2 separate regions of the Homo sapiens genome follow, and region 2 is reported to be linked to region 1. The links are microRNA targets in miRTarBase. Many come from high-throughput screens and were not tested one by one. Region 1 holds a microRNA gene; the other region holds the end of a gene's coding sequence.
What was found. Region 1 holds the annotated microRNA hsa-miR-6856-5p (AAGAGAGGAGCAGUGGUGCUGUGG, at 2,747-2,770, shown strand). A microRNA usually pairs through its seed, bases 2 to 8, with sites in the 3' UTR of a target mRNA and lowers its output. Matches are read on the target gene's strand: a 7mer-m8 pairs with bases 2 to 8, a 7mer-A1 pairs with bases 2 to 7 and ends in A, and an 8mer does both.

Region 2: the mRNA of CREB3L2 is a reported target of hsa-miR-6856-5p. Seed matches in the 3' UTR shown: 7mer-m8 at 1,738-1,744, 7mer-m8 at 1,965-1,971 and 7mer-m8 at 2,247-2,253.

The regions. Positions count from the first base shown.
Region 1 is chr9:130,623,556-130,627,555 of GRCh38, forward strand. It overlaps MIR6856 (microRNA 6856), which reads left to right and starts at 2,742; the gene lies at 2,742-2,808. FUBP3 (far upstream element binding protein 3) reads left to right here. Exons shown (of 19, transcript NM_003934.2): 11 at 56-156; 12 at 2,809-2,950.
Region 2 is chr7:137,876,698-137,880,697 of GRCh38, reverse strand. CREB3L2 (cAMP responsive element binding protein 3 like 2) reads left to right here. Exons shown (of 12, transcript NM_194071.4): 12 at 147-4,000. The coding sequence ends at 222. Among named protein-coding and RNA genes, the nearest start is that of DGKI, 32 kb to the right of the region's middle. RefSeq lists enhancers at 600-1,333, 1,334-2,065 and a silencer at 1,081-1,375.

The sequences.
Region 1 (4,000 bases):
GTTTCCTTCTAACGTTGGGCTTTTTTCTAATCCTGTCTCTCACCTGGCTCCTCAGATGATGGGATTAGTCCAGAAAGAGCTGCCCAGGTCATGGGCCCTCCGGATCGGTGTCAGCATGCAGCGCATATCATCAGCGAGCTGATTCTTACAGCCCAGGTGGGTCCAGCTCTGCAGAGTGTGAGTGTTTGGGCTGCAGAAGTGGAAAGTGCTACCCGGGGCTCTCGGTGCAGCACCATAGAGCTGTCACCCTGAGGCGTCTCAAGTCACATTATGGGAAACCAGCAGTTTCTCTACATCAGCCTCTTTCCTGCCTTCTTGGTATTTTTTTCTGCTCATTAATTATTCTGCCTTTATTTACCTCACCATCTAGATTGCCTTTACACAGTAAGTTTCTGGCTATTTAAACCATGTGGGGAAATACCATGGAGATTGGTCGCCAAGTTTCAAATAATCAAGTGTATTTAATGTTAATCTGTGTTAGTGAAATCCAGTCTTAGTGGTAGAAGACACTTCAGGGTCCTCCAAAGTCCTAAAGCTGCCTTCATGCACTTGATTTCATGCACATCTTTGGACTGTGAGCCAGCCTGTGTGACAGTGCTAGGAACCCCTATAACTGATGGTAGGACTGAGGATACATTTGAGAATGACCAGAACGGAAGAATAAAGCAAGAGATTGGAAATTATAGTCCCAGCTCTGCCATCAGTCATGTGACCTTGGAGCTGCCTTTGAACCTCTGGGTCTGGTGTTCCCAGCAGCAGACTCAGGGTGCTTTGCACCAGGCAGTGCTCTCTATGTGATCCCCTAAGAGCCATCTGGTGGTTCTTACTCAAATTACAAATGTGTAGGCCCCCACCCCAGATCTACTGAATCAGCATTTCCAAGGGAGGGTCTTGGGTCTTCACTAGAGACCCAGGCAATTCTTAAGATTAGACAAGTTTATAAAACGGCCACTAAATCAAGCTCGTTCAGCCTGTGGGCTGCACGCAGCCCAGGAACAGCATTGAATGCAGCCCAACACAAATTCATAAACTTTCTTAAAATGTTACAAGATTTTGTGTGTGTGTGTGTGTGTGTGTGTGTGTGTGTGTGTGTGTGTTTTTAAGCTCATCAGCTATCATTAATGTTAGTGTATTTTATGGGTGGCCCAAGACAGTTCTTCCAGTGTGGCCCAGGGAAGCCAAAAGATTGAACACCCCTGCTCTAAATGATCTCTAACATCCTTTTTTTGTAGCAAGAGTTTATGAACCTTGGCCAGGCACGGTGGCTCACTCTTGTACCCAGCATTTTGGGAGGCCGAGGCAAGCGGATCACCTGAGGTCAGGAGTTCGAGACCAGCCTGACCAACATGGTGAAACCCTGTCTCTGCTGAAAATACAAAATTAGCTGGACGTGGTGGCTCACGCCTGTAATCCTAGCACTTTGGGATGCCAAGGCAGGTGGATCACCTGAGGTCAGGAGTTCAAGACCAACATGGTGAGACCCGTCCCTACTAAAAATACAAAATTAGCCGGGCGTGGTGGCGCATGCCTATAGTTTCAGCTACTCAGGAGGCTGAGGCAGGAGAATTGCTTAAACCCAGGAAGCGGAGGTTGCAGTGAGCCAGGATCCTGCCATTGCATTCCCGCCTGGGCAACAAGAGCAAAACTCTGTCTCAAAAAAAGTTTATGAACCTTGCACTGCAGAGGCTGCGAGATGTTTGGGAGAAAACCTTTTCTTCGAGATCTGTGGCATACCCAGAAAGTTGACTGTGCGCTCCTGTGCGTGTGTGAACATCCATTCTAAAATTGCCTTGTTTACTTGGCAGTTGTCTCATAAGAGCAGAGTGCGGGGGAAAAGCACTCCAATTGTCTCAGCTTTCTGCTGGTTTAGATTCTGGGTAAACGTTCACTTTACTCTTAATCAACATGAGCAGGTTTTGCCCAACATTTCTTCATGTGTTGAAAAGTCTGTGCAGCTTCTCCCTTCCATGAAATAGCTCTTAGCTTGACCAGGTTCACCCTCCACATTTAAGAGAGTTTAAATACTGCAGCTCCAAAATGACTCCGCGGACAGCGGCTGGAATGAGACTTGCTGCTGTCTCAATGAAAGGGCTCTTCCTCTGTCCGCTGTTAGATTTAGGTTTTTCTCTCTGCTGGGTGAACAGTGGGAGAATGCCTCAGAGACTTCTCCAGCCCCACATGGGGAGGAGGCCTTGGCAGGTTCCCTCTGTTCCTCCCTTCTGAAGTATCCCTGAATGGTCACTCTTGAACCTGTTACTGCTGCTGCTGCTTGGGGGCACAACAGCCAAGAAGTTTTCTAAAACTGAGTAAAATCCGTTTATCCTTCTTGCTGACTGGAGTGCCAGGTGTTGTGACTCATAGCAGTGCCTGGTTGGGGAGGGTCAGCAGGCTGTGCATATCTGACTTCCCATAGGCCCAGTATGTGTCCGCCGCAGGAAAGAGGGGCCTCAGCTGCAAGGGAGAAAGCAGTTCTTGATGCCTGTAGATCGGGGCCCAGTGAGGAAAGCTCCAGGGAGAAAGGCCGCTGGGCTTCAGCCTTGGAGTTTGTGTCTGCCTATTTCTGTTGGATACATTTGAGCTGTTTATGTAACCACGTGTGTTCGTCTGCACAGGTCCTCCCCAGATACACCTGTGATCGGTGTTAATTCTGGCTTGAAAGAGCCCTTCAGAATGGGAAGTGTGGAAAGGTGCTAGGTTCTGATGGGTGGCATTGATTACATCCTGTCACTTAACCTCCTCCCTGGAAAAGAGAGGAGCAGTGGTGCTGTGGCAGTGGCAGAGGTCGCTACAGCCCTGTGATCTTTCCAGGAAAGAGACGGCTTTGGAGGCCTGGCAGCAGCCAGAGGAAGAGGTCGTGGCCGTGGCGACTGGAGCGTGGGAGCCCCTGGTGGCGTCCAGGAGATAACATACACGGTGCCAGCCGATAAGTGTGGCCTCGTCATAGGCAAAGGTAAGAGGCAGCTGGGGTTTCACATCCCCCCTCAGCTGTTTGGCTTGAGGGAAGGCAGGTCACGGGACCTCCAGAACCTTTGGTGAGGTCCCTTTGCTGCTGCAGGCTGGGGCTGCCCGGTCTGGAGGCAGTAGCCACCTTCTGCCGAAACCCTGCTTGGCATGGTTCTCTGAGGCTGCTGACGGGCCTGTTGTGAGGAGCAAAGTGTATTATTTCTGGTGAGTATGAAGAGACAGCAGTAAAACTCCCTGCCTGTTGAGGGCAGCTTAGCTTGGTGAAAAGATACCTTGCGCAAGATGGGGGGCATTTGTCAATCGACTGATTGGTAATTAACTCACCTCCAAGGAACTTAGAGGGACGGTTGAGACAGTATCCTCAGTGAAAATTCCTTCTCGACAGTGTGTCACTTGTTTCCCTTACCAGGTTTGAGTATTTGGTCTTGATCCGCGTAACATGTGAAAATGGTTTTTATCCTTTCTGCATATTTACCGTGAGTCACGGACTCTCTGTGGAGGGAAATAAACATTGATGTGTTAGTTTTTTCTGGGCATTTTGGAGAACATTAGGAAGAAACCCTCATTCATGGCTACTGTAGCTCCTTCCTGTCCTTCACTGAGAACCAGGAGAGAGCAGCCACATTTCTCAGCCATTGGCAGCAGTTCATCTTGGCTAGCCCTGGGACCCAGAAAGGCTACTGAGACCAGGGCCGAGGCTGTGGGGCCTTCCCAGTGTAGCAGCAGGGCTCGGCTTCCGTGGGGCTCTGAGCCAGGCCTCGCTGCCAGCGGGGGACTCCCGTTGTCACTGGGTTTCGTATTTGCCTTCATTAGGTATTTGACAGCATGTGGAGAAAACAGTCGTCTCTCCAGAGTTTCTCAAATTTCTTTGATCACCAAATACCCCTTAGCTGCTTGAGGGGCGCTCGTATTGGATAGGCAGGACTTGGGGATGCTTCACCAGCAGAGACCTCCAGAGCTGGGCAGGTGGGAGCCCCCCGACACTCACCTCCCAGGAGCTGCCCTCGTCCCTGCTCACAGACACTGTGGGCTTATG
Region 2 (4,000 bases), not on the chromosome of region 1:
CTACTAGGAGAGAAAAGGACAAGAAACATGCCCAGGCCGTCTCACCAAGTTGCAACCCCTGAATGATTGCATCACGCTACAAAGCATGAGAATTGTAGCTAACAGCTGGTGACTAATACTTCGTTTTCCTTTTAATGCCTTCACAGGGTCAGCGCCAAACTGGAGGGGAATGAAACACTAAAAGTTGTAGAACTCGACAGAAGAGTGAACACCACTTTCTAAAGAGGCTGCCTGCACCCCCTCCCTTTCCCTTAACTCTACTTTTACATCCCCAAACCACCTTTGTCATCAGCTTTTCCTCTTTGCCACTGGATCTTCATGGAGACATGGGCAAGCATTAGTGGCTTCAGATTGGAGACCAGCCTGGGACTTCCCTGCAGTGAGAGAGCATCTCCCCCTGGTCCATGCCCCTCCTGTGCAGAAGGGAGCCTGCATCCCTCCCTTCCTTTCTCTTACTGCCATAGGAAATTATTTTAGGGGTTGGAGGTGGGACAAGCAGGCTTGTTTCCACCAATAGTGCCAAAAAGATATTGCCTAATGTGCACCTGTGAGGTGTAACCCCCCGCTTTGGAGACGAGATGGCTCTTGTTCAGTCAAGACCCCAGACTCTGGCCACAAAAATGCCATAATGCCTGTTGGTATTTGGCAAAGCACTGACCCGTGTCCTCCGTTGCTCGCACTGGGGTCTCTGGTGTGAACACCCCCGACAGCAGCCCTCCGCCCACTCTGCCCCCTGGGAGCCCTCGCTGGATCGTCTCGTCTCCTGCAGCAGCACTGGCAGGCGAGGGCTCTCGTTCATATTCTCAGGCCGCAAGTGCAATGCCTGAGGGGATCAGGCTTTTCTACTCCAGGCAAACCTGCCCCATCTTGTCGCTTTTAGGACCTCCCACAACCTGGTTCCCCACACATCCATAGTTCTGCCTCCCCAGCTTCTCCTCCCCAGTTGTAAATAGTATTTATTAGCTTGCCGAGGCTTCCTGCTAGCAACCACACTGAAGAGATCGATGCCTCCTTTCAAGCTAGCCAAGTTTTCTGCGAGCCTTCAGAGCTAGGAGGGCACCCTAGGCTCTGGGATCCCGTGTCTTTCCAGACAATGTTTTGTTTCCTTTCCTTTGTTTTTTCTTTTAACTGGAATAATTACCATTGAAAAAGAAGTTCCTTTGAGCATGTATGTGTCTGCCTCTAGGATGAGCTCAGAGCGAGAGATGACACAATGCCTCACTCAGGCCCCGGGCTCCCTGGCCACAAGCTTTTTCTATCCTGTTTTCATGACAGAGAAGGGGAAGCCCTGTTCTGACAACAGACATTTCAGACAACCTTGCTGGCTTTCCACACCTGCCTGGCCCCCTCCTCCCTCCACACTTCCACTTTGTCCTCCTCGTCCCCTACCTCAACAAAGCAGGGTGGGGTAGGTGACATTTGTGTATCCACATTCTTACCTTTGGTAGTCAGGTTTGGCTACTTTGCAGCTCGCCCAAAGAGATACAACCTAATCCCCAACCTACTTTTAGTTTTTTTGTTTTTTTTTTATGGTTAAAAGTAACTTTTGTAGTTTAAAAAAATCTTTCCTCTTTCATATAAATAAGAAGTGGAAATTGCCTTTTTATTGTGTAATGTAGAAAACCCTCAAGTGTTTTTTCCGAGCTTGGGAAAGATTTTGTGTAGGAAATGTGCATAGAGTTTGTATTTTATTTTTATTAGCAGCTGAAATGCCTTTGGTTTTGGCTTCTCTCTCTCCCTCTCTCTCTCTGTCTCTCCTTCTCTCTCTCCCCCCACCACCCACCCCCACACACGTCATCTGCATTGTTATTGGAGCCTGTACTTAGAGGGATTAAGCCCACACCCTGGCTTCCATTCCATATCAGGTACAGGATTTGATGTTATTAACATTTGTCGTCATACCTCATAAGTCGGTCCCTGCCTTGTCTGTCTAGGCCCATTTGGGGCTCCCTGTGAGTGATTCCCCTCTCTCTGCTATGCTGGAGACGGTTCCAGCCTGGAAAGCGGCCAAGTTCATCTTCTCACTGTGAGTGGAAGCTGGATCGGGCCCCCGTAGTCCTGGCAGCCCTGTTGTCTGGAGGGTTCTTGTTGTCCCTCCCATTAGCCAGGGCGGAGACTGTCTGAGCTGTGCAGGAGGAGGGTTGCTAGTAGGTTCTGCTTCTGCTTCTCTCTGCTCCACTGTCTGCAGCCCAGATCCTGTTGGGCCTGGCTGGTGTCTGGTAACCATGGGCCTCCACTGACCCATCCCTCTCTTTTAAACTGTCAGGTCATTATCAGGCATAGGCAGCCTATAGGGCCCAAAGAAGGCAAAAAGATAAGATTTACTCAAGTAGCATTTGGGCAATGAGGAAGGAAAGGTTTCAAATTTAGGGGCAGAAGTGAGAGAATGAGCCAACCCATGTACCTGCTGCAACTGAACCAGACTGGGTTTTCAAGGCTCCCAGACGTAGAGTAGGAAACGTGCTCTTCTAAATGAGGAGGGAGAAGATAAAGGAAACTTCTAGCCCCTGTCCTTAGTGCTTTGAGGATTTTATTTTCTCCCTTACTACGCTTGCTTGACGTCACTCTCTCTCGACCTCCAAACAGCAGGACTCTTTCTCTGGGAAACCATCCTTCCAAAACGGAATCTATGTAGACAATGGGACGTTAGGCAGAGAGCTCAGATGGCCCTTTTAAGGGGGCTCCAAGAACCAACATCACTGCTCTTTTAGATAAACCTCTGCCCTCCACTCCTTGCTTGAGTGGGTTAAAGGAACTAACAGTTGTCCCTTTAGGAGGACAAAATGGGGTCAAGAGGACACAGAAGAGTTGTATAGCACCAGATTGGTTCCAAATAGTTAATGGATGTGTGCACATTTTCTGTTCAGGGATTAAGACCAGAATATCAGTGGATTTGTTTTCCCCACCAAGTGGCCTCTTAGACTAGTCATTAACTTATGATTAGCTCTAAAGATTTCAAATAGTGGCAGACAGTGTCTTCTGAATGTAAGTTTTGAGAAATACGAGTCTGTCAGAGCGGCCATAAGCCATAAAGAGTCAATCTCTTAATTATATTTTTCATCATGTAAACAAGTTTCCCATTTCCCTTTCTTAGATTGCACCAGTGAAGGAGATGTTTTGCAAAGATTCAGAGAACTAATTTTTCACTGGATAAGACCTGAGTAACCCAGACCCCCCACCGTGGTTCTTTTCACAGCCCTCGACTTTGCACTTAAAAAGGGATATTGTAAATGAAAGGCTGCAGTGCCAGTTTTAAGAAAGAATTTCTGTGAAGTGTGAGGACTCTGGAGTCTAGCTCACATAAAGAGAGTGTTATATAAAAATCCGACAGCTGAACTAGGTTGCTCTTTTTTGGCAGGGAGTGGGGATGAGATTTGACACCAATATGGGCAAAATTAGATAACCTTTTGGTTAATATAAATGATTTTGATTTGGAGGCCTAATTTGTAGATTGTGAAAGCAGCTTTTAGTTTAACTTATTCACAGACCCCTTATAATTACCATGTTTTTTTTTTTCTTCCTAAATCTCTTGGTTCAGCTTGTGAATCTTACGTGCCCGTAAAGTTGGGATGTTGAATTGGCTCTTCTTTGTTCTGGCAGTGAGTCAAGTGTCCAGCATTTTTTCATAAGTGTTTTTTAAAATTGTTCTCCAGCATTTTATGGCTCCTCCCTCCCATGTCCTCAGACCCAGCAAAAGCGTAGAGGCAGAATTAGAGGCCTCTCCAGGCCAGCTCCTCTGCCCACATGTCATACAAGGTGTGAATTTGAGCACAGTCCAGAAATGGAGACATCCCACCCCCAGTTGAATAATGGCCCATTCATGCCAACCTTGCCAACACGGAGAGGGCAGAGATGCACTAGAAGACCTTCATCCTCCCCTTCCTCTGCCCCAAGTCACTACAGTTGGTTCTATTGAAGCCAGTCTTTAAGAAACCTGGGTTAAAGACACCAGCACTTCTGCTTGCTGGGCTGGCTGGACCTGTGAAGCCATGGGCAGGTA